Regions from separate parts of the Homo sapiens genome. Here region 1 is linked to region 2. The links come from fine-mapping of genetic effects on gene expression. A gene starts in region 2. The other region holds a variant in brackets. All regions are shown on one strand. Distances are from middle to middle. Region 1 has its middle 42 kb from the start of CLSTN2. Region 2 holds the start of CLSTN2 (calsyntenin 2).

What was found. PIP is the estimated chance that this variant, and not a neighbour inherited with it, causes the effect.
Region 1: its variant is fine-mapped to the expression of CLSTN2 in lung (TOPMed, PIP above 0.99).

The regions. Positions count from the first base shown.
Region 1 is chr3:139,885,370-139,901,590 of GRCh38, reverse strand. No RefSeq gene overlaps it. Among named protein-coding and RNA genes, the nearest start is that of CLSTN2, 42 kb to the left of the region's middle. The variant GTTTCCCCAC/C (reference allele first, on the strand shown) is at 7,759.
Region 2 is chr3:139,926,277-139,942,497 of GRCh38, reverse strand. CLSTN2 (calsyntenin 2) reads right to left here and starts at 7,313. Exons shown (of 17, transcript NM_022131.3): 1 at 7,015-7,313. The coding sequence starts at 7,123. RefSeq lists silencers at 7,166-7,225, 7,266-7,315.

The DNA of each region.
Region 1 (16,221 bases), 41 kb after region 2:
CTACCTGCTGTGTCTGTCTCTGCATTTTTCTCCATTCCTGTCTGCCTTTCTTTCTGTGTGTCCATCTCTTTCTCTAAAAGTGTGGCTGCATGTGTAGGGTGTGCCTCCCTGACCTTGCCTCTTCATGGTATATCTCTCCATATGTCTTTATAATTATCTGTGTGTCTGTCTCTGTGTGTCCTTTTGTCTGCCTGTTCTCTCTCTCTCTGCACTCTCTTAAACTGCCTTCTTTTTCCTTGCTTCCTCCTCTCTCTCTCTGTTTTTGTGTGCAAGTGACCAAACATGGCTGCTTCCGTTCAACATTTACAATATCCTTTAATTCACCTGCCGGAGAGAGGCTGCCCACCAATTCTGAATTCCAACCCCAAATTCCTGGGGGAGAGGATCTGATTAGCCCAGCTTACATCAGGTGCTCATTTTTAGTTCAATACAGCTGTGGCCAGGAAGACATGAAATGGGGCTGGGAAGCATCAGGTGGTATAAAAATGATTGTCTGCCACTGATCAACAGAGCACTCAAGTCCAGGCCAGCAGTGGGAAAAAAAAGAGGTAAAATACTTGGAAAATAAAACACTCAGTATTTGGAAATGTTATAAACATCTACCAAGAAACAACAGCAGAATCAAACAAAATACAAGAACTTGCTGAAGTTACTGGATTGAAGAGCAATTTCAAAAATTAGTATCATTTCTTTACACTAGTAATAATCTAGTGTATAATAACTGGCAAATATAATTTCTAAAAAGATACCATTCACAATAGCTACAAAAAACACAAAATATGTAAGAATAAAAATGCCTACAGTGAGTAAAATTTAAAGTTATAACAAATAAAAATATATGTATGTATGATGATCTGAATAAATGGAGACCCATTCCAAAGTCATGAATGGGCCAGTTAATATCACAAGAATGTGAATTCTCCCCAAATTAGTTTATAAATTCAATGTAAGTCCAATTAATTTTCCAGCTGGAGTGTTAAAGGGACTTGATAAATGTACTTTATAATTTACATGAAACAGGAGAACTAAAAAGATTTCCTCTGGGGCATGCTGGCCTTCATAAAAAGTAGCTGCCATCAGTTGAGGACAGGCTGGAGAGCTGAAAACCTCTTGAAAAGTTCAAAGACATCACGAACCTCAACAGGTACATTGAGGTGGCCCTCTGAAAACTGGAGCAGGGGAACAAGGCAGAGAGAGATTTCCTGGGGTGTAGAAAGACAGGGTGGGGACAGAAATCAGAGTGAACTCCTCACAGCAAAAGAGCTAACATGGCTCAGAAAGCTGGTAGTTAAGCTGTAAAGTATAAAGAGATACTCAGAGCCCTGGATCCCTGGATCCCCAACCCTACTGAAGGGGAAGTCTTGATTCTACCCTCAAAATATTTGAAGCCAGTGGGAATTGAAACAAATTAAAAGTTCAAGAAATCTCTGGGCCCAGTTGAACTAGACTTTAGATTAACTCATCCCCTACACTAAGCAGCCTGAGAAAAGAAGAATCAATCATGCCTTTTCCTGGAGGACAAAATTATTTACCTCAGTCTCTACTGTGATTTTAACACAGTGTCTGAAATACAGTTTAAAAATTATGAGACACAGGACAATCAAGACAGTGTGATGCATGGTCAAGAGCGGAAACAGCAAAGCACTCATTTATTTAAAAAACAACCTCTAAGAAAAGTCAAATTTGAAAGTGTATTAGTTTCCTATTGCTGCTGTAACAAACAACCATAGATATAGTGGCTTAAACAACACAAACATGATCTTACAGTTTTGAGAATTTGAAATCTTAAACAGTTTTCACTGGACTCAAATCAAGACATTGGCAGGGCTGTGTGCCTTTCCAGAGGCACAACAGGAGAATTTGCTCTCTTGCATTTTCCAGTTTTTACAGGATATCTACATTCTTGGCACGTAGCCCTCTTTCTCCACCTTCAACACCACCAACAATGGATCTCTCTGGCCATTTTTCTAGTAGTTCCATCTCCATCTGACTCTCTTCTTTTGCTTCCCTCTTCCACTTTTAAGGACCTTTGTGATTACTTTGGGCCTATCCAGGTAATCTAGAATTATCTATTATTTTAAGGCCAATTAGCAAATTTAATTCCATCTGTAATCTTAATTCCACTTTGGCAAGTAACATAACATATTTTTAGGCTTCTGAAATTAGGACATGGACGTCTTCGGGAGCCATTATATTGCCTACCACAGAAGGGAACTTCCTTGATCTAATATAAGGCAACAGTGAAAAGCATGCAGTAAAAAGTTCACATTTGAATGTAAAAAGTAAAACATTGAATACCTTAAGATTGGGAACAACTGTTTCCAAAGATTTCTTCTCTCACCACTTCTCTACAACATTGTCCGAGAACTCTTAACTCAGTGCAATAAGACAAGAAAAAAAAAAGTGCAAAAATTGAAAAGGAAGAATAAAAACAGTCTTTATTCACAAATACCATAATTTTATATGTAGAAAATACTATGGAATCACCTAAATTTGGTAATTGACTTTACTAAGGTTAAAGGATATGAGATCAACATTTAAAAATTTATTATATATTTATATATTAGTATGAATAAACAGAAAATGAAATTTTAAAAGTAAAAAAAAATACCTAAGATGAATGTAACAAAAGATAAGCAAGACTTCTACCCTGAAAATTATAAAATATTTCTGGGAGAAATTAAAGAACAAAATGGAAAGATAGCATCATATTCGTGGGTTATACTATTCAAAGCTGATAAAATTGTCTACTTTCTCTAAATTAACCAAAAGATTTAGTACAATCCCAGTTGAAATTTTAGAAGTATTTTAAAAAATAAATTGAAAAGGTAAGTCTAATTCTAAAATGTATATGGAAATGTAAAGAATCTAGAATATTCAAAATAATCTGAAAAAATAAGAACAAAGTTGGAGGACTTACACTACCTGATTTCAAAACCTACTGTAAAGTTACAGTAATCAAGACCATGTGTTATCAGCATTAAAAAAAACCTGTAGGTCAATGAAACAGAATAGAAAATCCCAAAATATGCCTACACATATAGAGATTTTTGACCAAAGAACCAAAGTAATTCAGTGAGGAAAGGAAAGTCTTTTTAACAGAATGTGCTAAACAACTGATATCTCTGTGGAGGAAAAAAAATTAAAATCTAGCTCAGTAACATATGTAAAAAATAATAATTTCAGAGAGATTATAGACCTAACTTTAAATATTAGAACCATAAACTTTCTTAAATAAAACATACAAGAATGTCTTTGTGACCATGGGTAGGTAAAGATTTCTTAATGATAACTCAAAAAGAACTAACCATAAAATAAAAATGATAAATTAAGCTCCCACAAAATTAAAACTTTCTGCTGATAAAATGGTACCATTTAGAAAATGAAAAGGCAAGCCATATTGGAAAATATGGAAAATTGGAAAATTTTAAATTTCCAATAGATATATTGGAAAAAAATTCACAATATATTTATTTGACAAAAGACTCGTGTTCAACACATTGAAGTGAGGAGGGAGTGCTGAGAACGTCTATAAGTCAATAATGAAAAGATAAGTAATCCAAGAAAAAATAGGGAAGAGACTGAAGAGTCACTTCATGAAAGATTACGCAATAAGCACAGGTAAAGTTTTCACCATCATTAGTCACCAGGGAAATGCAAATTAAAACGAGATACATTTCATACCCACTAGAATAGCTTTTATCTAAAAGACTGACAATACCAAATGTCGATGAGAATGTGGAGCAACTGCAACTCTCAGACATTGCTGGTGAAATGTAAACTGCTACAGTGATTTTTTTTTTTTGCTTGTTTGCTTTTTGAGACAGAGTCTCACTCTGTCACCCAGGCTGGAGTGCAATGGCACGATCTTGACTCACTGCAACCTCTGCCTTCTGAGTTTAAGTGATTCTCTTGCCTCAGCCTCCCAAGTACCTGGGATTACAGGTGCCCACCACCACACCCGGCTAATTTTTGTATTTTTAATAGAGACAGTGTCTCACTGTGCTGGCCAGGCTGTCTCAAACTCCCGACCTCAGGTGCTCCAACCACCTTGGCCTCCCAAAGTGCTGGGATTACAGGTGTGAGCTACCATGCCTAGCCTACAGTGATTCTGAAAATTAGTTTGGCATTGTTTTATAAAGTTAAATGTAAGTCTATACCCTAAGACCTAGCAATATTTATTCTAAGTATTTACCAAAGACAAATGAAACATGTGACCACAAAAAGAGTTCAACAATAATGTTTATAATGTTCATTTATATAACATCAAAAAATTCAGAGCGGTTACAAGTGTCTGTCAACAGGTAAATGGAAAAACAAACCTACTCAGCACTAAAAAGGAATGAAATGTAAATACTTGCAATAACAGTGGTGAAACTTAAAAAATAAAACCTAGATCTAAAAGAATATGGGCTGTCTAATTCCATCTACATGAGGTTCTATTCAGGAAAAACTAATCAATGGTAGTAGTAAACAAAATGATCATAGTGTGGGGGGGATTGACAGAAGTTCACATGGAAATTTTCTGGGGTGATAAAAATATTCTACATCCTAAGACTGTCTCAGCTAATTAAAAATTTTTATTCTTTTTATTGATTGTTTCCTTTGCTGTGCAAAAGCTTTTTTAAGTTGTTGTGATCCTATTTGTCCACTTTTGCTTTGGTTACCTGTGCTTGTGATTACTACACATTACATGCCTGTATCAAAATATCTCATATACCTCATAAATATATACACCTACTATGAACCCACAAACATTTAAAATTAAAAATTTAGTAAAAAATTTTATTCTTCCATATAAATTGAGATATACTCTTATACATAACAAACATGGAAAGATCATAAGTATTCAGCTTAAGAATTTGAAAATTATATATATCATTTTTTTCAAGACAGAGTCTTGCTAGGTTGCCTAGGTTGGCCTCAAACTCTTGAGTTCAAGCAATCCTCCCACCTCGGCTTCCTAAGTGTTGGGATTACAGGCATGAGCCACTGCGCCCACTGAAAATTATATATAACCTTTGATGTATGCAAGTTGTGCCTCAATAATTTCTATGGAAGAATAAAAATGTATAGTTAAATAAGTCAACCTTAAGAAGAATAAAGAAGGCTTTATCAGATAATAAAATATACTATAAAGCCACAGTAATAAAAACAGTCTAATATTGTTCTACAAACAAAATACAAACCAAAAGAACAGAATAGAGGGCTAATACAGACCCATTACCATGCTTCTTATAGGATAAAATGACACTGTGAATCAAAGAAAATATTGTTTAATAACAGGGCTGGCAAAACTGGAACACAAGAAAAATAAAGCAGGATCCTAATATCATTTTATTCCAATATCCTAATATTTAATATCAGGTATCCAATGATACTTGATATAATTTTATTCCAAATGGATACAAGATCTAAATGTGTAAGATAAATGTCTATAATGATTAGGATAAAATATAGAAAGCATAATATCACTGTGACATAGAGGTAGGAAAGCACTTCCTAAGCAGTTTCAAAAACACAAAACACATAGCAGAAAACAGGTGGATTTAATCATATCAAAAGTATTTTTGTATTTTTCAGTTCAATGTAAGATATATGGAAAGAGTTAATAGGTGTTAATAGGTGACAGAATGGACGGAATGGAAGAATATATTTGTGGCATTTTATATCAACAAAAAATGTATTATTTATAATATACAAGAAACTTCTGCAAGTCAAATGGAAAATAGATAGCAACCCTGAATTTAAAATGTTCAAAGGATATGACTTAGCATTTTATAGAAAAAAACTCAAAGGGCTAATAAACATGTGAAGAGATGCTCAAACTCATTTTTAATCAGAGAAATGCTAATTAAATAACAAAGAGAACTAATAAGTTCTGAGCTTAGAACTTATTAGTCTTGTAAAATTGGAAAACTGGATAATGCCAAATGCTGGAGGGAAAGTAGGGGCATGGAAATTGTCTTGTGCTGCTGATGAATGTGGTACAGCCATTCTGAAAAACAGTCTGGTGGTACTTAATCAAGTTAGGTATACACATACCTATGACCCAGCTACTCTGCTCCTGGGGCATATGCCCCAAGTAATTCTCACACAGGTTCAAGGGGCACGAGTATGCAGATGTTGAACTTTCAGGTTGCAGGAGGTTGGAAGAGTAGCTAGTTAAATTGTGATGCTCACCATAATGTATGTACTAGATAACAGTTAGCAGTAACCAATCAACTATGTACATGGCAATGAGGATGGATCTGGAAAACACAGAGCTCAGTAAAATAAGAAAAATAATGAAATATATATGATACAATACCATTTAGGTAAATTTAAAATACAAGTATACAGAACAACAGTATGTCATTTATAGAAGGATACACATTAAACACTTTAGAATGACTGACTGAGGGCAGAAGCTAGAAGGAAATGGGAATAGAGAATGGAGAATAAGGAAGTAAATAAAACAAAAGAGGCATGGACCAACGATGATTATGAGCCACAAACTGAAGAGGCTAACTCAACAATCTGCACCCAAGGCTTAAAAATTGGTTGTAGGAACTCCCTTTCAGGGGAAGGAGGACAATGATCTAGAAGACAGAAGTTTTGCTGTGAAGACCCTTGTGAGGGCCCACAGTGCACCAAATGGCCATAAAGTATTATATATTCATCTTCAATTTTTTAAAAAGAAGAAATTGAAGTTCAGAGAAACTAAACAACTTGCCCAAGGTCACAGTTTGTAAGAGGCAGTGCCAGAATTCAGACTTAGTATCAAAATGAGTCATCACTTGACTGCTGCTGCCCTGGACCAAGCCAATATCGCTTCTCACCTGGCCTGTTGCCATAGCCTCATCCCTGACCCCTGTCTCCCACCATACCCAACCAATCTATTCCACACAGCAACCAGAGCAGCCCCTTAGAAATAGAAATCAAATTATGTCACTTCCCACCTCAAAATCTTTCAAAGCTGTCTCAGTCCCACATCACTGAGAATTAAATCCAAAATGCTTGCATGTCCAACAAGCCCCCATATGGCCTGGCCCCTGCCTAGCTTTCCAGTCTCATCTCTGATCATGCTCCATCTGGCTCCTTCAGCTCAGCCATATTGACCTCCTTTCTGTTTCTTAAACACTCTGAGAACATTCCAGTCTCAGGGCCTTGGCACTAGTATTTCTCCCCATTTTCACATGGTTTCTGCACTATTTCACTCAGGTCTCTGCTCCAATATTATCTCTTAAGAAAGGCCTTTCTGACCGCCTTACCTCTAATGCACTATCTTCTGCCCCAGTCATTTTTTAATGCCTTACTCTGCTTTGTTTCTACCACTTATCCCTACCTGACAGCACGTTATTCATATTTTTATTTGCTGGTTTATTTTTGTCTCCCACGGTAGAATGAAGGCAAAACATTGCTCTAACCAGTGTGCTCTACACAATGCCCAGCCCATGGCAAGCCCTCCTTCAGTGTATGTGGATGAATGTTTGGATGTCTGAGCCCAAACCCATTTCTGTCCCCTATGACATCACCCGTGGCTCCCAAACAGAAGTGGGGAAGGGAGCATGGGGCAAATGGGGACAACAATGAAGATAAAATGTAGCCCTTGAATAGAAAGTAGGTGTGCGGGTCAGGGAGAGGAAATCCCAGAACCTGATGGGACTGAGCAGGCTTGGGAGCAGCAGGAAGAATGGGTAGGCCCTAAGATTTTAGGGTTAATGTTCTCTAGCCTTTTTGTTTTTGCTACAGAAAAGATGAAAACCAAACTGGCCA[GTTTCCCCAC/C]CCCCAGATAAGCCAATGTGTCTGAGTCTGTTCTCATGAGCCTCAGGAGACAGAGATTTCACAACTGCCTTGCAAAATCCCTTTCCTAAACCTAATGACCATCACAATAAGAAATTCATCCTTATTATAGGCATAAATTTATCTTGCTGCAATTTTATCCCATTTTCTCCAAGAAATGTACTAGATTATCAAAAAATAAATAAGAGGTAAAGTGCTATAGAAATATAACGCATTTACACAACTCAAATAGGAGATTTTCCCCTGGATTGTAATAATGCATCTCTTGTTAATCCCAGCTAGCTCTCAGAATCTAGCTCTTAGGGCTGAGCTCGGCAATCAGCTTCCATAAAAGTGCCACTTACTGTATGTCTTCCCTGAAAGACACTATTGACAGGACCATTAAGAGAAGAGATTCCTTGGGGGGGGATGAGAGTAAATCTTTCATCAAACAATTTATTGCCCTTCTGCTAAAAGCACATCTACTATTCATTATCACTCCAACTAAATGGTGGTATTAGGAGTCCTGGAAGAACTCTGACCTGGCCACAAAACCCACCCTGTCTTGTAAAAGCAGACTGAGCTGTTCTCCCTCCAGCACCACCTGAAATGCTGTCCTCATGGATTCATTCCTTTGAGTTAAGCATTGATATTCTAGGTTCTGCATCTAAAAGGTCATTGAGTAATTAATTTTTCCATTTGATGCATTTTATATATAGTTTATATGTAGTTTTCAGTTCTCAACTATAATTATCTTCTTTTTTATTTTCTAAAATCTGAATCATAGTTTAAAGCCTCCAATAACTGGATATCCTACAGACCTTTTATATTGCCAATTTTTTAAAATCTTGATCATGAGTCATTTTATTTTTTTCTTTTTTCTATGCTTGTCAATTGTTGTTGCAGGCCAGATATTGCATATGAACAATTGAAGAAATCATTTAAGGTACTGGATAATGCTATATTTCTCCAAAAAGAATTTAGTCTTCTTGTATCAGGCATTTAGGAAGGGCACAGTTTGCTTAAATTCAGACAGGTTTTGAGATAATTCACAAGTAGGCTTCTGTATTACTAAGCTGCAAACTTTTAAAAGTCCTAGTTGAAAGCTTGGTGTTTACCAGGCCTCTCTCTGATGTTGGGCTCCACTTCATATTTTTGTCTACCACATCCATCCTCATGAGATAATTAAAGCTCTATTTATCTTTTCAGCCTCTGTTTGGTATTTCAAATTGGAAAACACCTCCAGGAGAAAAACAGTGCCAGGTTATCAGGCATACCTGACAAATGGGGTACTTTCTGTCTTCTTGCTTGCCTATGTTTTCTTATTTTTCTGCAGTGAGCTGTTATTCACTCAAGTTATACGTTATTGAAATGTGTCCAGCTGTGCAGCTTTCCCCATTGTGATGAATTTCTCTTGAGCTCACGACTTTTCCAGAAGTGTTTTGTTTTTCCCACTCTAAATAGACTCTCAGACCCCCATCCCCTTGGTCTGGCACTGCTGGACAAGGCTGGCATCGTAGCCATAATCCTTTCTAGTTTCATTACTAAGAATGCTCCAGCAGTGGGTTTATGACCCCATCATCATTTAATTAAGGAGTGGGCCCTGGGAACTGGGAGCACCAGTGGCCCCAGCTCCCTAATGCCACCTGGAATGTGCAGTCTGGTGTACAACTGCACCAAGGCAGTGGTTCCATTCCCAGCTGCAGGAGTCTAACTATAAGAAGCAAAGTGTACCAAGCTAGGCGTTCCTTCCTGTGAAGGACTCCTGGCCCCAGAACTGCTGTCAGCTGCACCTTGGAAACAAGTGCCCCAAACAAAATGCACCAAGGAACTCATTACTCAAGGGTGCCCTGTGGCAAACCATTTTGCAAAGCGAGCAATTCAGAGTGAGTGATCACTCTAGCATTTGAGTTTCACTCACAAGGATTGTTAACAGCACACTGTAAACATCATTCACATTAATGTTGTTTCTTTTCAATCCTTTATTTTCAGAATAAAACATTCCTTCACCTCTCCTTGGCCCAAAACTTACATATACTTGAAAAAATGTATGTGAGTAGCAAATAATTCTTCTCAATTTGTATTCCAATGTCTGAATTGGCTTTGATTTGGCCTTAAAGACTTGGCTGATCTCTCTAGGCTGCAGGGTAACAGATTCTGAAACCCAAGAGAATGAGCTCAGAGCAAAGAATAAATTTGAGGTTTATATCTTCACTGACGTGTGCCTGAGGATGACTGGAAATGGGCATCCCCCAAAACTTTTCTCCTCCTTCCTTCTACCTGCCCAGCTCTGTTTCTGTGCCATTTTTTGTGGAACTCATGGGTCCTAAAGCCCTTGACTAATTTTTGTCTTCCTGATTCATCAGTTTGTGATGGTTCTATATTAAACCCTCCCACTGGGACTAGGGATTATCATTTTTACCTTGTATCCTATTTCTAGGTCATGTTACTAGTAGCATAAGGTCACAATTAATATATCTCAATGAATTATACCACTTATGCAAGGTCTTAGTGCTTTTCACCTTAAATTCTATTTTATCTCATGGAACAACTTTCTTGTGGCTAGCATTTGTCTTATATGCTATTTCCATCATTTACTTTTTCAATTTAGGCTACAAGTCCAATGTGCTATCCATTGCACCAAAGAGCCTGCTCATGCTTTTAACCTTTCTACATTAATTTTAGTTGTGACTCTTATAAGCAGTGAAGAAATGGATTTTAAAACAATTTGATTTCTAGTCAACATGGTAGTCCCTGTACTTTAATATGGTTAGTTGAATATGTTTACACATGTGATTACCAATATATACTTTTTTATTCTTTGTTTGTCATGTTTTACTTATCATTTTTTTCTCTTTCCTAAACTTCCTCTTTCCACTGGTTTTATTTTGTGCACACACACACACACACACATACACATTTTCCCCCTTTTGTTGGTTTGATAGTTACAATTTCTGTTCTTTTAATGGTTGCTCAAAACTTTTAATATATATTTTTATTGTATATCTTCTAACAACGTGTAAAGTTTGGCATATTAGACCCTACTTTCTCCCTCTAAACCATGCAGAATCATCTTCAGTGTCAATGGTATGTAGAATTTTAGTTCTACCTCTGTTAAGGAGGTGTGAGAGAGGAAGGAAGCAGGGGGTGGAGGTGAAGTCTATGACACAAGGAATATTCATAATATTCATTCATGTTTTATTTTCCACAATTAAAATCACTTTATTGTCTGTGTTATGATTTTTTAGAATGTATGTTTATTGAAAAAATTCAAGCAATATAGAAAATGGCAAGGGGAAAATAAAAATCACCCCAAATACTTTCTACCCTGAGATAACTAGATTCTGGTGATTTCATCCATTCATGTATCCATTCATGTATCTCTATGTAAATGACACAAATATAGTCACATATTGCTTAACAATGGGAATGCATTCTAACAAATGTGTCATTAGGCAATTTTGTCATTGTGTGAACATTAGAGTGCACTTACACAGCCCTATATGGTATAACCTACTACACACTTAAGCTATGTGGCATAGCCTATTGCTCCTAGGCTACAGAACTGTACAGCATGTTACTGTACTGAATATTATCGGCAATTGTAACATAATGGTAAGTATTTCTGTATCTGTACATATCTAAACATGGAAAAGATACAGTAAAAATATGGTGTAAAAGTTTAAAAATGGTACACCTGAATAGGGCCCATATCATGAATGGAACTTGCAGGATGGGAAGTCGCTATGGGTGAGTGAGTGAGTGAGTGGTGAGTGAACGTGAAGGCCTCGTATTGTACACTACTGTACACTTTACAAACACAGTGCACTAGGCTATACTAAATTTACATAAAAATATTTTTTCTTCAATAAGTTAATCTTAGCTTACTGTAACATTTTCACTTTATAAACTTTTTAACTCTTTTATATTAACATGTAGCTTAAAAGACAAACACAGTACACAGCTATACAAATTGTTTTATATTTGTATTTTATATACTTTTTATTTTTACTTATTTTTTTTAACTTTTTAGACTATGTTATTAAAACCTAAGACACAAACATACACATTAGCCATAGTGCTGTCTTCCACCTCCACATCTTGTTCCACCTACACACCTTGTTCCACTAGAAGGTCTTCAGGGGTAATAATATACATGAAGCTGTCATCATCTGTAACAAAGCCTTCTTCTGGAATTCCCCCTGAAGAACTTGCCTGAGGCTGTTCTACAGTCAATATGTATATACAGAGAGAGTAGAAAGGTAGATGGATACATAAATACACACAGTTTATATGTGTGTGTGCATATATGTAGAAGAAATGTACAAATGTACTCTAAAATAATGAAAAATTATAGTATAGTAAGTACATAAACCAGTAACATAGTCATCTATTATCATTAAGTACTATGTACTACTCATAATTATATATGTTATAATTTTATATGTCTGGCAGCAAAGTAGATTTGTTTACATCAGCATCACCACAAATATGTGAGTAATGTGTTGCACTAGGCGATAAAAACTTTTTAGTTTTATTATAATCTTATGGAACTACAATTATATATGTACCTTCATTGTTGACTGAAATGTTATTTCAGTCAACATGTATACAGTGCATGACTCTATACAAATATAGATTTTCATATATAAACTTTACATAAATTGGCTTATATGCTCACTTTTAAAATCAAGTAATTATTGAACTCTGTTTGGATTTTTGTGTACCTCTCCCCTATTCCAATAGACACATCTTATATAGCCAATATATTAACAGCTTACCTAAATATTCTGTCCTGCCTTTCTCAAGGTTCATTTAATCATATGTAGATAAATGATGAAGAAGGAAGGGAAGGAAGGAAGGAAGGAAGGAAGGAAGGAAGGAAGGAAGGAAGGAAGGAAGGAAGAAGGAAGGAAGGGAGGGAGGGAGGGAGAGAGAGAGAAAAGAAAGCAAGGGAGGGAAGGAAGGAAGGGGAGAGGAGAGGAGAAGAGAGGAGAGGAGGGGGGAGGGGAGGGGAGGGGAGCAAACAAATATAAAGAATTTAAGTCATTGCTGTGTTATTAAACTGGGATTATATTACTTGTACTTCTTTGAAGTTTGCTTTTACCACTTTATAATTCATCGTGTAAATCGTCAGCTGCAATGCACTTGATAAGGTTTAGGATGTGCATCCCTTCCAAATCTTGTGTTGAAATGTGATCCCCAAAGTTGGAGGTGGGGCCTAGTGTGAGGTGTTGGGTCATGGGTGTGGATCCCTCATGAATGGCTTGTTGCCCTCCCCATAGTAATGAGTGAGTTCTCATTCTGTTAGCTTACAAGAGAGCTAGTTGTTTAAAGGAGCCTAGCATCTCATCCTTTCTCTCTCTGGCTCCTGCTCTCGCTATGTGACATGGCTGCTCCACCTTTGCCATCTGCCATGATTTAAGGCTTCCTGGGGCCTTACCAGGAGAAGATGTCAGCGCCATACTTCCTGTCCAGCCTGCAGAACTGTGAAAAATAAACCTCTTTTCTTTATAAATTATCTGGGCTCAGGTATTCCTTTATAGTAATGCAAAGTGGACTAACAAAACACCCAATGATATTTTGTGAGTTTTCATTATGGAAGTTTCATACATAAACAAAAGAAGTGAGAAACATATGATGAACTCCCACATATCCGTCACTCAGCTTCAACAATGATCAATATTTATATTTTCCCAATCTTGTTTCATTAGTCCTTCCTCTGGTAAGCAGAATATTGCCCCCTCAAAGATGTCCACATCCTAATTCTCTGTGAATATGTTACCTTACATAGCAAAGGGACTTTGCAGATATGCTTAAATTTAAATAACATGAGATGAAGAAATTATCCTTTATTGTCCATGTGGGCTCAACCTAATTTTGTGAATCCTTAAAATAAGAGTATCTTTTCTCACTGTAATTAGAGAACATGCAACTATGGAAAGATGATTAAAGAAATCACATCTTGCTGGTTTTGAAAATGGAGAAAGAGGGCCATGAGCCATGGCCTCTGGAAGCTGGAAAAGGTAAGGACATGGATTATCTCCTATGTCCTCAGGAAAGAACACAGTCCCACCAACACTTTTAACTTTAGCCCAGTGAGACCAGCATCAGACTTCCAAATCATACAACTGCAAGATAATAAATGTGTGTTTTTTTAGGCTTCTCAGTTTCTAATAATTTGCAACAGCAACAATGAAAAACAAATACACCTTCATTTCCTTCCTTCCTTCCTTCCTTCCTTCCTTCCTTCCTTCTTTCTAGTAGGGGCTGGAGTATTTTATAGAGAATTTCAGACATGATAGCATTTTACCCATAAATATTTTACTATAATATTTCACTATGTATTTTAACAGATGAAGAGCTTAAAAATAATCACAATACCTATCATCCTTTACAGAATGAACAATTGCTTAATATCATGTAATACTGTGTGTTTAGCATTTTCTTATTGTCTGAAAAAGTCTCTTTTTATACCTGGTGTGTTTAATCAGGTTCTAAAGACCTCAAGTTACATTTCATTGATACTTGTCTTAAGTCATAATAGTTTTCGTTTCTCCCCTTTTAAACAGGCACTGTGTGTGTGTGTGTGTGTGTGTGTGTGTGTGTGTGTGTGTGCGCGCACATGAAGAGACCTGTCCATTTGCTTAGTAAAATTTACTACAGTCTGAAGTAAGCCAACCACACCCTCAAGGTGTCAATTAACTTGTAACCTATTTCCTGTATTTCCTGTAAACTAGCAGTTAGAGCTAGAGGCTTGATTCTATCCATCTATCTATCTCTCATCTATCTATTTATTTATTTTGAGAAGGGGTGTTGCTCTGTCTCCCAAGCTGGATTGCTGTGGTGCATTCATAGCGCACTACAGCCTTGAACACCTGGGCATAAGTGATCCGCCTACCTCAGGCTCTCTAGTAGCTGACACTACAACGGCACACCACTGGCCCCCTCACCAGTTGTTTTTTGTTTGTTTGTTTGTTTGTTTCATTTTTATTTTGTAGAGATGGAGTCTAGCTTTGATGTTCTGGCTGGTCTCAAACTCTTGGCTTCAATCAGTCTTTCCAACTTGGCCTCCCAAAATGCTGGGATTACAAGTGTAAGCTACTATGCCCAATATCTAATCCCCAATTTAGATATTTTGATTAAACTCTTTTGGCTTCCTGTTGCATTGCATCTGGTTGTTTCGCCTTCAGTAATATGGAGACGGATTGGTGGTTCAGGTGCTGTCAACCTATCCATCTATTGTAGTTTTCCCACAGCTTTTCACTCAATGATACTGGGACTAAAGGGCCTAAATCCATTATTTCAAACATTGTTTGGGTATCACTAAAACTTATTTGTATATATTTGATAAATTTTATTTTTTTTTGCAATCATTATTTTAATACTCAAGTTTTCCCAACTGTAGCCAACAGAAACTCCTATGATTGACTGCTATATTCTTTTGGCATGTCTGCTAGTCTTTGACAGTCTTCTAGTATAAAATGCCATTTGGAGACCACAACCTAAATGATGAAGGTTAATTCATTCTTTCTAAAGCTTAAATGATAGTTCGTGATATGAGTGGCAGATATTGAAGCCGAGCTCACTCACCTGCAATCTAATCTTGTTGGAGTATGTCTTACTGAGTGTTAAGGACAACATCTCCAGCCTCTCCTAGACCTGTGATTGCTCATTTGACCTAGTTTCTACCAAACAGGTACCTGAGAGATTCAGAAGTCAAAGTGTGGAGGAATTTTGCCTTGACTGTTTCTGGCATCTCAGCTGCAGTCATGGAGGCTGCTACATGGGAGCTGTCCTAGGAGTCCCAGTGACTGGTGCCTAGCTTCATGGATACCAAGAGTCAAGGGCAAGGCACTTATTTGCTGCTTTAAATCCTGACTACCATAGTGCATCTTGGGTCCAGAAATTGAGGCTGCAGCTTCCTGAATCTCTAGCTTTATTAGTCAGCTTTTGCTAGATCATGCTGCTTAAAAAAAATCTTATTGGCTAAAGACAAAGAGTAATTTCTCTCTGAGCATACACCTTGGCTATGGGTTTGATTTGCCTCTACTCCTGTGTCTTCATTATTCTTGAACTCAGGGTGAAGGAGCAGCCCATATCAAGGACATATCATAGTTGTGCTAGATTGAAAAGACAGCAGAACTATGTAAAGGCACTTAACACCTTTATTTGAAGCTGGCACACATCACCCCCACTGACATTGCATCAAAGCAAATCATGTGGCCACACTTTATGTTAATGGGGTGGAAAATATAATCCCCTAACAAGTAAGGGGAGCAAATAATTGAGAACAATAATACCACCATTATCTACCAATCAACTACTGACAACAATCTACCATCATTGTTATCTGATCATGCCAGAGAGAGGAGCAATCTTGGTGGGCCAGTTCAATGCTTGTATTCTACAAATTCACTCTGCACCCTCAATCCAGCCCTATCAAGGATTGCGTAC
Region 2 (16,221 bases):
TATGTATCCTGGCCTAAAACGGAGTCAGAAGAGGGCAATATTTAACCCAAATGAATAACCGAATCAGGAGAACTGTCGGTACAAAGGCCAGCCAGCTGGGATAGTCTTTCTGGTGCAGGAGACCCCTCCAAACACATCTGGGACTATACAGTGCAGAAGGCTGCCTCCTCTGCTTGAGGCCAAGCATGACAGGAGGTGAGGAGGGCTTCAAGCTGTCTGGATGAGAAGAAACAGGTATTGCTCACTTGGAGAAGTGAGTCAGAGAGTGAGGCTTTCAGGGAAACCGATTCTTTCAGCAATTTTGAAGTAAAATCCAAGCAAATATTCTTGGACAGCAAGGCAATGCCTTCCAGGGCAGCAGAGCCTCTCTGACCTCACTCAGAGCCTTCCTCAAGCAGACATCACATCATTCTGAATAGGTAAGCCTGTGTGAAGAGGGGAACCCATGCCTACCAGTGTATTCTGAGTTTGTAACCCCAGTTTTACCACCTCTGAGCTCTGAGACTTTGGGCAAGTTACCTCACTTCTCAGTGACTCAGTTTACTCCTCTGTAAAAATAAGATTGTAGATTTACCTCCTTCATAGGGTTGGTACGAGGATCAAACCAACCGACATATGTGAAGTGCTTCAAGATAGTGCTTGGCACATAGTATGAACTCAATAAACATTCACTGTTTTATTAGCTCTGGAATCTGATGCAGAAATAATATTTGACCTGGCTGAGCTCCCTCTTCACTCGTGCCTGTGTGCCAATCACTCTTACCACCTTGTATTTACCTGTCCAGTGCAAACCCCTGCCCCTGACATATGCTTACCCAATGCCTACCCACCCATCAACATCCCTTTTACTTTCTCCATAAGTCTTTCCTGACCTCTATTGTTGCCAACTTCTTCCTTTCCTGCAAGGCTTCGGGGGGTCTGTGATGCACAATCTATGATTTTCCCATAAGTCACCAAGTTCTGCAATAGTTTGTGTGATGTGTGATGTGCAGTGTTTGCCCTAGACAGAGTGTGAACTCTTTGATAATTGGAACTTGCTTTTATCTTTTTGTTCCCCTCACAGAGAATAACAGGAGGCTGAGAAATAGTAATTGGCTGAAAAGGCTAGAGAACAGGACCTAGTGCATGTCTGGAAGGGCTAACTCTCATTCTAACCATTCTCCTCTGACCAATACTCCCTCTGGCCTACTGCTTGTTTCTTTCCCAAATCTCAGAGCATGATCCTCTGTCCTACACAGTGCCAGGATCTTCAGCTCAGTGCTCTTCCCCAGCTCAGGCCTCCCCATGGTCTACCCTCAAAACCTGTCTTTCCCAGGGAACCATTTCCACAGGGTCCAATTAGTCATGGGTTAGATAACAGCTAATAAAACAATCATCGATTTCAAGCTGTTATTTGAATATCATAGCTTCAGTTACCCCATTCCATATAAACATGTATTATCACAAAACTTGTCAATACCTTAAACAAAAAAGTATGCCTTTCTGTTTTCTCAGGTAGCAGGGCTTGGAGGAAAGTATGAACTGGGCAGGAGATCTTTCCTTACAACCCAGATCACACCACATAAGCTCTCCCTCCAGAGACCAGAACCTCCCACACCTCTGGCACTAGCACATGGAGACAGGCTTGTTTATTTACTTAGATAGCAAATATTGCTGACCTTTACTCTGAGCTGGCCCTGCACTAAGTGCCAGGGCCTTTGAGATGAATGAGATGGAGCTCTGGCTTCAAAGACATCCATAGACTAGTGAAAAAAAGCATGTCTTTTTACAAACAAGTCAAGCCAAATGCGTGTGTATGCATGTGCATTTACATTTATATATGATATTTACACACAGGTGCATATCCACACAAGGAGAGAGAGGCAGAGAGAGACTGAGAAACAGAGGAACGGATAACAGTTTGAGCTGAGAAAAGATATGAACAAAGCTATTGGATTTCTAAGAGATCAGAAAAAAAAAAATTCACCAAATCTCAGACACTAAACTAACTGTTCAAGTGATCAATAATTAGTCATTGTATATTTAGTGCATTTTACATGCCCCAAACTGGGCTAAGTGCCCTGACAACTATTTTACAAGGTAGATCTCTGTATCCCCATTTTAGAGATGAGGAAACTGAGTCTCAGATGGGTTAACTAACTTGTCCAAGATCATCTAACTAGGAAGCAGTAGGGCCAGGTTTGGAACTCAAGTTTTTCTGGCCATATGCCCAAATTTTACTTTATAGAGGAGAAGGAAAAACACATAAATTGTCTATGTCAAGAAATGACAGCACTAGGGATTACAAACAGGTGTGTTCACCAAGCAAATCACTGCATACTGCTCATCTCATATCTTGAGGCAAGGCTCTGGAGATACCAGGAGAGTCAGAATGAGCCTCTAGCACTGGTCTTTGAGCCCTGAGGACTAGAGTCAGACAAGGAAACACAGGCATGCAGGAAAGAGAGGCAAGTCACTCAGAAGTAACCAGCCTGGGAAGGTTCCTTATGGAAGGCCAAATCTTGAGTAACAGTGAAAATTGGGCTGAGGAAGGTGACCTACTAGCTTGATGCCCAGAGAATCCAAGAGAGGTAAAGGGCACATTCCGGTCCAAGAACCACAGGCGTTTCAGGATGGCAGCAGGTCAGAGTACACTTTCTGATGCATTGCTGAGGGCTTTTTGGCATTTGTGCTTCAGTTGGAAAAATGACTCTGTTATACCACTAGAAGACACCTGCTACTTACCCAAAGATGACTTAGAACAATCCACCATAAAAATTCCACACTACCTTTGCCCCTGCAGGAAGTTCTGCAGTGTGCAATCTGGAATATTCAAGGATGGTTTTTGAATCTGTGGGAGAGAGAATGAGGTGACTGCTCTAAGCGAGAACATTGGTTTCCATGGTGAGAGCAAGGTCCGTTTCCCTCACCTCACCTGCATGCCCTTTTAAACAGCCTTAGACACTCATACTGTGCTCTTCTGTGGGCAGGACCACAAGGGCTCCTGGGTAACTCAAAGATGCAAACAGCTCAGCTTCCTTGTGGTCCCTAGACCTGCTTTCAAAACCACTGGGAAGACTATCTGACAAATAGGGGGCACTGGGTATAGTGACCTTTATATTCTCATCCCAGTGCCACACCCTCTAGCTGGAGGTCTTGGCAAGTTCATTTACCCTCTCATAGAATTTGTTTCTTCATCTGTGAAATGGGCTAACACTGGCTCTGCATGTGTTGTAAGAGTTAGAGATTGCCCATGTAATGGGATTAGCAACAGTGCCTGTGACATACTAAAGAGGGACTCCATACACTGAAATTACTACAATTACACCATACTGTTGTTATAATTCTGCTCCATCCTCCTCCTTACCTATTACCACATGCTGCTTTTGTAAACTTTGTCTCTGCACTCCCATCTCCTTTGCCTGTGTCTCTATCACAGTCAATACTATACTTTGGACAAATTCTCTCCGCTGCCACTCTCTTAAAATTTTCACATAAAAATCTTGTCTCTCCAACTAAAACAGAAGCTCCTCAACCCTAAAACTTAAAGTATAATAATAATAAAAATTAAAAAAAAAAGAAAGGTAGGGGTGGGAGGGGTGGAGGGTGGTCCTCTGCTACTGGCTCAGAACCAGAGCACTGAGCAAGGCTCTTAGCACACAAGGCGGGCACTACAACAATTGATGGTCTATACTTGAGTATTGTTCCAAATGACCTCTATGCCTAGATGTTGGGAACTTAAGAAGGACTGTGTACCAAGTCCTTGAGGTCTTGGGACCACTGACATTTTGCCAAATTTAGCACAAACTTTGAGGTGTTGTCTAGATTGCATTGTCTTCCTTCCCTTGGATAAGACATGTCTTTCTCTGCCTCCAGAAACTCTTTGGGTCCACAACACCTTACCAGCTTTACTCATAGAACATGAGCATGTGATCTGGTCTCTTCATGGAATCCAAGAAGTATTTATCTTTTTTGAATAGCCAAAATATGTAAGGGTGAAGGGAAGGAGTTATAATTGCCTGGCCACTGTGTGATTTCTGAAATTGGAAATATGTCTACACTGAAAGTACAGTGATTCTGTGAAAACCCCAGGTAGTTGTCCGGGATTAACTGCTCGAGTCCCTAAAGCAAGAAGCAAGAAGCAAGAAGCACAAAGGCAGAACAAGCTGTGCACCACAGACACAACATCTTACACAAGACTGAAGCTGGGAGCACATGCTTCCAGACAGTTGTTTGGAGGGTGCATTCAACTCTGTCAGAAAGCTTGACTCCAGACTCCCAGTGTTTTTCTACACATGAATACAGAATTGTACGAAAGAAGTATCTGGTTTTTTGTTCAATCTTCACACGCCTTCCTGATTTTTTTTTTTTTTTTTTTGTGATGGGAATAACAATGGTATGAACCTTAAAAATGGCAAAGTCAGAGGCAGGGTGCATTATACACAAAACATACAGCTTTATCATTTCAAACATTCTTCAGAGATCATATGATTTGGAAACATAAAATGCAAGTGCATTGTTATAAGGAAAGTCAGTCCTGTAAATACTAACTAAAGTGTCATAATAAATGTCTCTGTTGTAATCAAATATTACACATTTATCTTGAAAAAAAAATCAGCAGCAAACAGAGCTCTTTGCAGCCCCCCAGTGGTTGGAAGGGGAAAGAAGCGAGAACAAGGGGAATTCGGACAGTTAACTCTCAATCTGCAGGGCCAATAAACTTTTTACCCTGGAAAAACAAATGTCTAGTTTGTTTGTTTGTTTGTTTGTTTTTGAGACGGAGTTTCATTCTTGTTGCCCAGGCTGGAGTGTAATAGCGCGATCTCGGCTCATTGAAACCTCTGCCTCCCGGGTTCAAGTGATTCTCCTGCCTCAGCCTCCCGAGTAGCTGGGATTACAGGTGCGTGTCACCACACCCATCTAATTTTTTTTTTTTTTTTTTTTAGTAGAGACGGGGTTTCTCCATGTTGGTCAGGCTGGTCTCGAACCCCTAACCTCAGGTGATCCGCCCGCCTCGGCCTCCCAAAGTGCTGGGATTACAGGCATGAGCCACCATGCCCGACCTGACAAATGCCTAGTTTTAACCAAAAAATGAATATGTTCTAAGTCGGATGTTGGTTAAAATGCACATAATTATCCACATAAAGTGAATCATTGAAAGCCTGGGGTTTTTATTTTCCTTTTTTATCTCTCTCCTTCTCTTTCTCGCTTACCTCTATGAAGCTTCCCATTCTGACCTGAGAACTCAGCCGTGCATTATTACTACTCACACCAGATCCTCTTCCCAAATGATTTCTTCCCTGTTCTGCACTTGCTGTGTGCTTCTCACCCTCCTTCAAACTCCCGTTTGCAGACATCTGCTTATATCAATTACTGTGCTACAAAGTGATGGGAAATCTCCTCCCCCCCACCCCCCAAAAAAGTAATTTGCCTGTTTAACAAAGTGTCTATATTGGGAAAGCAGGGGGGAGATGTTTGGAAGTTCATTGTTTTTTATTCTTGTCTTCACCAAAACAACAGTCTCTCAGCTTGATCCCTTCATATCAGCCACTTCTTTACCGCACTCTGAGATATTTTCATAACGAGTTTTTCTCTCATGAAATTTCTCATTTCTAAAAATAGAAACTGCCTGTCAAAGATACACCAAGAAAAAAAATGCTGAAAAGAAACAGAATGCCTGCTTATAAAATATTTTCAAAACGATGACACCAAAAAATTTAAAAATTACAGATAAACATAATCTCCCATGTTCTTCTCAAATATATCACTCCTAAGTTATTGGAGGGCCAGTTTCTAAAGCCCAGACAAGGCGAACTGCCTGCCTCCAGCTCTCCCCAACCTCCAAGAGTAATGCAGCCTGATAGGCATTTCCTCCCCTAAGCTAGTGGTCAAGTGTAGCTCAAAGCAAGCGTCCGAATCAGGCTGTCTCTAACAGGGAATCTATTTTCTGACAGGCGCAAACCCCTCCGCCCTCTGATGATTGCCAGGCAGGATTTGGGGACCAAGTACCCCTCATTGTCACCTGGCGGATTTGGCCACAGTCCACAAACCAAACGCAAGCCCTACTTATGAACAGCGCAGAGAATCAACAAGTTATCACTAAGCTGTGCGCCCCAGCTAGGATCTGCCACAGCCTCCCCTGAGCCCACCACTGTTCCCCACCAGCTCTGCTCTTCCCTCGCCTCCCCACCCCCTGCAAGCACGTGACCTCCTGTTTCAGACCCGGCCCCCCACCCCAGAGCTCCCGACGCTCCCAGGCAGCTGTCAAAGTCCGGGGTTCGCCGGCTTCCAGGCTCGCCTGACAGAGCCAGGCGTTCGCTTGGATCTAGCTTCCTTCCGGGCGGGAGGCGCGGGGAGGTCAAGCTCTTCAAAGGAACAGGGTGGGCAGGGGAGTGGTGCCAGGTTAGGCTCCTCGGTCCTCGGTAGTCAGAGCGGAGTAGGAAAGGCAGCGGGGAGCCTCACATCCCGCGCTTCTTCCGGACCCCGCCGCCTACCCGGAGGGTACACGTTCCCCGGGGAGTCAGAGACGCCCTGGGGGAGCTTGAGGAGTGTCAGCGGGGCCTTCCCTGGAGCCTACAAGTTTCCACTCCATCCCCGAGCTGGGAGACAAGTCACAGCTCGGCTCCCTCCTTGAAAGCACCGCCGCTGATCCTTCCCCCAGGCAGGAGCAGACACCTGCTTGTCCCCACGGCGCGCCAGCGCCCTGCTCTAGCCGTCCCTGGGCCAGAGCTCGAAACTCACCCACTGCGCTCCCACCCCGGCACAGACAGCCCTCAAAGTTGTCCGTACTCCCCAGACCTCGCCTTCTGCTCAGCCCCCGGACCCCGCCCAGGGGTTGAGTTGACGTCCGCGGGTGGACCTCTCTGGTCCGCTGCGCAGGGAACTGACTTCGGGAATCCAGGGCGCACAGAGGCCAAAGAAGCTGCGGCAAGGGAGGGTGGGCAAATCCAGCTTGAGCCTAGGTCCTTGCCGCTTTCACCCTCAAGCCTGCCCTGCCTCCCTCCTGGGAGAAGAGCAAACTTCCCCAGCACCCACCTTTAGCCGCGAGGAGGCGGCGCTGCCGGCTGTCCCCGCCACCGCCGCTGCCGCTCCCCACGCCCAGCGCCAGCAGGAGCGGCACCCAGCACAGCCGCCCAGGCAGCATCCTCGCAGCAGCCGCCAACGAGCTGCAGCCGCCGCCTACTGTCCGCGCCGGCTCTCGCCTCCCGGTGCCTGCCGCACCGTGGGCCGCCTCGCCGTGCCCGATGGGTGCGCTTCTAGCGCTGCCGCCGCGGCGCTCGGCCTCGGGTTCCCGCCGCTGCGCCGCTAGCTCGCCGGCAGCAGCCGCGCTCACTGGCGCGGACCCGGAGCGGCTCAGGCGCTCACCCCGGGACGGCCCGTGACGTCACGGAGGGAGGGAGGTGGCTCGTGCATATTCATGAACGCGGGCATCGGCGCCGGGTTCCGCGCTCCCCGCCCCAAGGCCCCGACCCCCAACTTTCCTCAGCCGTCTCCACGCTCCGGGGCCCTGTCCAGGTCCCCCTGCCCAGTCGGGACCGGGCCCCCAGAGGACCCTGGTGGGCGGCTCCGGAGAGCCCTCCAGCCCCGCGCCTCCACTCCGACTCTCGGAAAAGCTGCCGCAAGGGATGGAGGGCTCCCCCAGAAAGTGGCCACCCGAGGCCTGAGGGTCATCTGGGGTGGCGCGAGGGACCCTGACCTGCCATGCCCTTTGAACTGATATCTGGGCGGAGAGGACTGACGGGCGTCGCTAAGGGTCTTGCCCTTGGCTGGGTCTCTGGGCGTTCTGCGTCGACTGGTCTGGGGAGGGCGCCAGGCGCACACTAGAGCAGCGCCTAGTGGTGCTAGGGGTTGTCGGGCAGAGTAGATAGCCTTGGACCTGGATGGCAATGGCAGGGCTCCGCGTCATCTCCGAGAAGCAGGGGCAGCCGCGGCTCTTAGAGGCTGATAGAACAGCTAGATCAGAAAACTTGGGGTGCTGGGCCTGCTGAGGCTGCAGTGGCGGGGGCGGGGTGTCAAACTTAAAATTCCCTGCGGTATGGTGCCATGCAAGAAGTTGCCACCTTTATGTTGTCACTCCGCATCTCTAAGAACAGGCTACTTGACGTCATGCATTGTAAAATCTCGTGCCGTTGAGTATTGTCAGTTCCCTGAGTGCAGGAGCCAGTGCATATCTTTGCATCCTCAACCATCTCTAGGCCGTGAAAAAATTACAAAGGTACTCAAAAAAAAAAAAAAAAAAAACAGTAAGGACTCAGAATAAATCCTTGACCATATTTACCTAAATGAAATGCCAACATCACACACAATGCAGGGTTTATGAGGAATAGTTTGGAAATAAAGTAGATATGGAAATACAGAAACAAACAATATTATTTATTTAGTCATTGATTCAAGACGTTTGCTGAGCATCTAGACAGGCTGTATCACCCTGACAGTGAGCACTGGATTAGTCGTTGGAGATCCAAAGACAGAGGAGAGAGTGGGTCCTATCCTCAAAGCTTTTGTTCCCTGCTTGGGGAGCCAGAGAGGGCAGCAAAGGCAATTACAATCCCTTGTAAGTGTTATGGTCCTGCACATTCTTTATGTTGCTAGCTATGAGCCTATACAAATCAATTAACAAAATGTATATATTGCAAGAGTGCCTAAACAGCATCCTCTAATTAATAACTGTAGTTTGAGGTACTCAACAAAGCCATAAAATCCATTAACAGCACTCCTGCAGCTCAGCCTCCCTCTGCTGCCCTGGCAGCTCACTCAGAGCCTCTGCAGTGGTGAAAGCCAACTCTTCAGGATTTCAGGCACCAGGATGTGCTTGGGGACAGCAGTGAATCATGGTGGCTGCATGGGGCTCAGACCCATGTGGGGCTCTTTACCTTCAGGTCTCCTTTAGCCCACAAATCAACATGTGCGCTATTATTCTCATTTCACACATGATGAAATAGAGGCTCAGGGAAGTTAGGTAACTTCCTTGTTCAGGGTCAAAAATCTAGTAAATGTCCCAGGCCGACACCAGGACCTTGCCTTTGTCAGATGTTGGTTTCAGAATCTAGAAAAGATGGCATGGAAAGGTGGTAGCTGACCCAGGGAAAATAAAAAAGCCAGAAAATAGAAGAGAAATGTAAATTTGTCTCATTTTCTTCCATTTATGCTCCACCCAACTACATATCTGCCCTCCTCCCTTCATTTTCTCTAATAAGTAGACCTATCTTACTGACTTACCTGCACTGTTCTTTGATGTCATTATACTGGGCTTTGTTAAGATCACTGATTGGTCCTAATAATTTTATGTGAAGTTTCAAATTCAGACCAAATAATGAGAAACAGGGGGAAATGTAGCTTATTAGGAAGCATCTCCATGGAGAGATAGCCAGGAAAGAACACAGCAAAGAAAAACACTAGGGGGTGGGCCAGTTACCAACAGGCACAAAATTGCTAGCCTCCATCTCCTCCTCTACCAATGAGGGTAATAACAATGCCTATTGTGGTAGATCAAGTGCACTAATGGCCATTTGTCCATGCTTCTCTGAATCTGTTTCCTTTGGATGTGCCCTCCCACCCCAACTCTGAGCTAGGCCATATGATTTGCTTTGGTCAGTGGGACAGTGGCATGCATGTTGCTTCTTCCTGCCTTGAATCCCTGCTGCTGACATGAGAACAAGCCTAAGCTAACCTGCAGAAGGGTAGGAGACTGCATGGAGTAGAACTGAGCTGTTTCAGACAGCCAAGGTCACACTAGGCTGGTCAGAACCAACTGGCCTACAGGCTGGCTAACCACAGACACATGAGCAAGCCCAGGTAAGCTCAACCAAGATCAGCCAAGCCTGGCTCACATCAGAACTATCCAGCTGACTTATGAGATACAATAAGTGGTTTTTGCATTAATTCATTATGTTCTGGAGCAATTGATTGAGCAGCATTATGCCTACTTCATAAGATCATTACAAGAAGTAAATTTTAAAAATATGTTAAACAGTATGTTGCACATAGTCAATGTTCAATAAATGTAAAAATGTCTTCCCCTTATCCTACTTCCTATATCTCTGAAAACAAGTGTGCCAGTCACACATTTGATTTGATTCATTTGGGGAACAGGCAACAATGACCTGCCTTAGAGGAGATAAAAGTAAGTAAGTTCAGCCTTAGAAATACTCAGACATAAGAGCTTTTAAGTCCACATCATTTGTATGGAGCACTACTGTGCTGTCTGCTTCTGCTGGGCCATTGCAGATGCAAAAGATGGGGTAAAGCAACCTAACAGTTAATGAGTCCTCATTCTTTCCATGCCAGGCTTTACAATGGAGGATATACATTCCACACCTACACCTTCTTTAATCTTTGCAACAAGTGTGCTGTGGTTTGAATATGTGTCCCCTCCAAAACTCATGTTGAAGCTTAATCCTCAATGTGGCAGTATTGAGAGGTGAGACATTTGGCAGGGGGCTGGTTCATGATGGCTCTGCTCTCATGAATAGATTAATCTGTGCATAGATTAATATATTAATGTGTCAATAGATCAATGGGTTATCATGGGAATGGGACTGGTAGTTTTATAACAAGAAGTAGAGAGACCTGAGCTATTACATGATGTGATGCCCTTTGCCACCTCTACAGAATCCACATGAACAAGAAGGACCTCACCAGATTTGGACTCTCAACCTCAGGCCTCTCAGCCTCCATAATTTTAAGAAATAAATTTGTTTTCTTTATAAATTACCTAGTTTCAGGTATTCTGTTATAAGCAACAGAAAATTGACTAAGACAATTGTGCTATTTTCCCTATTTAATCATAATCAGATTACTGGCTCAGAAAGTTTGAGCAACTTATCCATATTTGCATAATTGTGCAGAATATCAATTCATGTCTGCTTAATTCCAAATTTCATCTTTCTCCCACACATCATGACTTTGGGAGAGGCATGCGGGATAAGTAAGCAACAAAAAATAGTTTCAAATCAGAAAAGATAGCTTTGGGGATTTGATTTTTAAAAAACCTTTATCTATCACTACCTCTGATTAAGGACCAATTTAAATAGCCAACTGTCACCAAAGTAGAGATACAAATCTCTGAATATCCATTACTTATTCTGGACTTAGTATTGTGGCATATTCCTCTAAAGATTTTATTCAAAAAATGGTGAACAGGGCCGGGCGCGGTGGCTCATGCCTGTAATCCCAGCACTTTGGGAGGCCGAGGCGGGCGGATCACGAGGTCAGGAGTTCAAGACCAGCCTGGCCAACATGGTGAAACCCCATCTCTACTAAAAATACAAAAATTAGTCAGGTGTGGTGGTGCGTGCCTGTAGTCCCAGCTACTCGGGAAGCTGAGGCAGGAGACTCGCTTGAACCTGGGAGGCAGAGATTGCTGTGAGCCGAGATCATGCCACTGCACTGCAGCCTGGGTGACAGAGCAAGACTCCATCTCAAAAAAAAAAAATGGTGAACAGGATGATGTAAAGCTTGGTCACTCTAAGCCTCAAGTCTGGGGCACCACCTGGCAGTGTAATAATGAATCTCAGGTAATTTATCTGGGTCAATAGTTCTTAATAAATAAATAACTCCCCTATTCCAGAAAATAGAATCTAACTGGCATAGGCCCCATATAAACATAGCCATTTCCTCTCATTTCACCAGGATCATTAATGCGTTGCCCAATTAAGCACCAAAACACAGGCCCTAAATAATTTAAGCTGGGTAATCAAAGAAAATAAATAAATTATATATACTTATGGAAACTTATTTTTAAAAAGAAAATTAAACTGAGGCTTTCTCCATGACCCAGATTTAATTCAACTAAAAGTACTTAACTTTAAAAGAAAGGTTGAAAAGCTGATCTTTACAGAACTAGAGTCATTTGTCATTCTTTTTTCCCATCTTGACAGGTAAAACTGGGGCTTCATGACGCTTGAACAACTGGACAGTTTGCAGATTTTTTAACATTGTTCTTGGAAGTTTTTACGCTGTTGCTGCCAAAGGAACTTCTTTTAAAAAAAGTTTAGGCATTTCTCTTCAGGAAAAAGTTAAAAAAAAAAAAAAAAGCTTGTTCACAACCAAATCCAGTTCAGCATTGTTTGGACATGAGTGTTTTATGCTTGGCAAGGTGGAGTGCCCTGGCTGAAAACAAAGATATCATTAATAATAGCAAGGCATTATTCCAGTACACTTATGTATACTTTCCTTGGAATTTTATGCCCTGTGGTGTTTTGCTTGTTTGTTTTTTTAAGCAGCCATAAAATTCTGTGGCTCTTCCTCCATTGAGAGATGGAATCTATATCTCTTCTCCTTGAATCCAAACAGCCTTGAATCTGAGCATTGTTTCTATCAGTAGACTGCACCAGCAGTGATGCTGTGTGACTTCCCAGACTAGATAATAATGGTGATGCAGCATTTGCCTTGCTTGCTAGGATGCTCACATATGGAGGCTGGAGCCTCCATGTAAGAATTCTAACTACGCTAAGGCCGCCATGTTTTAAGGATCACAGGCCATGCAGAAAGGCTGTATATAAGTAGTTTACAGCCCCAGCTGAGTCCAACATTTGAGTTATCCTGAAAGTTCCAAATAATTCTTCCCACTATGCCCTGCCCAAATTCCTGACCCATAGAATCCATGAATGTAATCAAATGGTTGTTTATACCACTAAGTTTTGGTGTCATTTATAATACATCTAGAGGAAATAGAACATATTTATTTTCATTTGTTCCCTACAACAAAGGCTGGGAAAAGATAAATATTATATTTCGAGGCAAGTCATGTGTAATTAGTCCTATTTTGTAGCTCAGATGTTGAGACTTGTAGAAGCCAAGGCAAGGAATAAGTAGAGCTTAGTGGAAAGAAAATGATTTCTAGAATCAGACAGACCTAAGTTGCAAACCTAGCTTTCCTGTTTTCTAATGATGTCTGACTCGAGAAAGCTACTTACTCTGAACCTCAGTTTCCTCATCTATAAACTTAGACTAATGAAGCAGGTTGTTTTCAGAGTAAAATGAACTGTAAACTGCTGAATTCTTTCCATGCCAGATGGTAGGGATACAGTAAATAGGGCCATTGATAGTTACAATGGACACTCACCCAGGGCCACACAGGTTGTGGATAGCCTTTTGCCTGACTTGATCCAGTATTTGGTGTTTTCTATGCAGGTAAAACGTGGACAGATATGGACACACATGACACCACAGAAGCTCCAGCCCCACCAGCACCTTTGCCAATCCTGCCACAGGAAGCACCAGCCCACGTGCCCTGCCAGAGCAATTCAGATGTGTCTCAAGTACCTAAATCTATCTGCTCTGTGTCATTCCAGGGCTTTGTTCCACTAAGGGAGATGAGAAGGAACCTACCACTTATTGAGCACCTACGATGAGCCAGACACTGCACATATTACTTCAACCCTCCAAAAGTCTAGAAAGGTGATTTATCATTTCCATTGGACATCTAGGGAGATTAAGTTTCAAAGAGATTCAGCAACTTGCTCAAAGAAATTAAGGTGCACTGCTAAAAATGAAGAAGCTGGAATTTGAATTGTCTGGGTCCTGTCTGACTCTGAAGCCATGTTTTTCCAGCCAAGTGAGGCAATGTGTCCAGCCTCCACCACAGCTGTAGGTGCAGGGTTTGTACAGAGACCAAATGCACTACCCTGACTCATTCTGGCCATAATCCCAGGTTTTACACAGAAGTCGTTGTCTTTCAGTGATTCTCTGAAGTTTCCCAGGTTGGAATCCTGTTTCCCCACTGTCTCAGTTGGTACTGGAGATCTTCCCTAGAGATGTTCCTTTCTCTTTTATTTCCTTTCTGTCCCTAAGGGCCTGACTCAAGCTCCACACCTCAGGCTGTCTCCTGACTCCATCCTCTCCTGCAAGGCTTTCACATAACCAGTGGTTTGATCATCAATACCTAGCTCTCCTACACTGCTCAGATACTTTCCAAGACTCATCAAGACTTACTGCAGAAGGCCAAAGTTGCTTAACAAAAATTCAAGTCCCTCACCAGCCTGGCCTCAACTTCCATTGATAACCTGATTTCCTGTGACTCCATTTTATGTAAACTCTGCTCCAGCCAGTCTGGGGACTCCACTGTTTTTCAATAGGGACCACACCAATCCTGCTTCTACACCTTTGCTCACGCTAGACCCTCTACTGTAGTGGGGCTGAATTGTGTTTCTCAAAAAGTCTTGTGTTGAAGGTCTAACCACTGGTACCTCAGAATATGATTCAGAATATGACTGTATTTGAAGATATGGCCTTTAAAGTGGTAATTAAGTTAAAGTGAGGTTATTAAGGTGGGCCTTAATTTAATATGACTGGTGCCTTTCCTTCTAAGAAGAGGAGATTTGGAAATATAATGTGAAGACAGAGAAAAGACAGCCATCTACCAGCCCAGGAGAGAGGCCTAAGAAGAAACCAACCCTGCCAACACCTTGATCTTGAACTTCCCACCTCCAAAATTGTCAGAAAATAAGTTATTAAGCCACACAGTCTGTGGTATTTTGTTATGCAGCCCTCCACACTAATACACCTACCTACAGTCTCTTCCTCTTTCTCCCCAAATAACCTTCTCAGTCTTACTTCCAAAATAAATATTTTTTCTACCTCCCCAAGCACTTGCTTATCTTAAAGTCTTCAAGAGGCTTCTCATCACTCTTAAAATAAAAAAAAAAAAATTAAACCATTTTAGTCTAACTCACAAAGCCCAACTTGATTATTCCTGCCTGCTTCTCTGACCTCTCCCACCTTGCCTACTGGCCTTTGGTCCTTTGAACATAACCAGCTCTTTCCTGCCTTTGCTTTAAACTGGGATTGTACTTCCCTCTTACATCACATGGCATTCAGGTTTCATTTTAAATGTCACTTCTCCAGGGAAGTCATTCCATTACTCTATATAGCGTTTCTTTTTTAATTCTCTGTAATCACTCCTTGCTGATATTTTCTTGAAAGTTTACTTGCTCATTTATTTCCAGCCTCCTCCCAATAGAACCTAAATTGCAGGAGAGGCGAGACTCATGTGCCTGACACATGGGTGCTAGATAGTTATTTACTGAGTGAATGAATGAATGCATGAATGAATGGTTTACCTTCTCTGAGCAGAGCACGTTTTGTCCTGCATCCCTCTTTTTTGACTATTGACATAAACATCCTATTGAAAAATCACTTAAATGTATATTCTTCTTATAAAAATCTAGAACTTATATTTTCATGTAGCTTGAGCATGATACTGCAAAATTCATACTCATGGGTGGGAGGGTGGTGTTAAGTAAGAAAGCATTTTAAAGGGTGAGTAGTACAGATACTGTTTTCGTTTTATACATAAGGAAATGGATGCAAAGAGAGGTTACATCACTGGCTTAAGCTCACACAGCCTGGGCTAGATTCTAGTTTTCTTGAGTCCTGGTTCAGAACTCTTTTTCTATATCATGTCTTGGTACATAGTCAGAGTCAATAAGTAGAGTGCACAAACACCAGTGCTTAAAATGCCTGGAGCTGACTGAGCTAGGAGTCAGGAAATGCCTTCCACACAAACACCCCAATGGAGAGATCCCTATGAAAGAGAAGAGAAGGGTTAAACGTTCATTTGCTTTCCCAACTCAAAAAGCAGCCTATGCCTGCTCTTCAGAGCCTTCTAGTCTAAGATCGACAAGCTGACTTGCTAGACTGCTCCAAGGAAATCATTTCACCTAAGTAATTTTAAAGTTTTATGTCTTTCATTTCTCAGTATTTAAGAAATTTTTTTCCAGGTTGGCGTGGTTATGTGTCATGAATCATGTGTCCAAAGGGGACAGGATATATTATATCATCTTCATACAATGTTCTATAACATCTGGGAATGCCAAAAAGTGGTGTAGAGTGGATGGCACATGATAAACGGTATGTATTTGCCCGTGGGGGAATTGAAGGACCTTAAACACCCAATGCCATGCCTAAAGGGCAAAGTGTGGCTTCATTCCTGCTTTAGTCTATAAGTAACTGAATATTGGAGGCTGACTTTATGGTAAAAGATATCCAGCTATTTTTTGACTTTAGGATTCAGGGATGAATACTCTTAAAGCAGACTACTAAAATCCATTCTAAATACATTTCCTTAAAACTGGTCTAGAGATTGATTTAATGCTGAACTAGGAGGAGTAAGAGAGAGAGTGAGTGGAAGAAAGAGGGGGGGAAACGTCAAAGAGGAGCTACATAAACAATGATTAAGGATTTTTGAGTATTTATATGATACAATTCATATACATGAATATGAAACTTTGTACTTTGCAA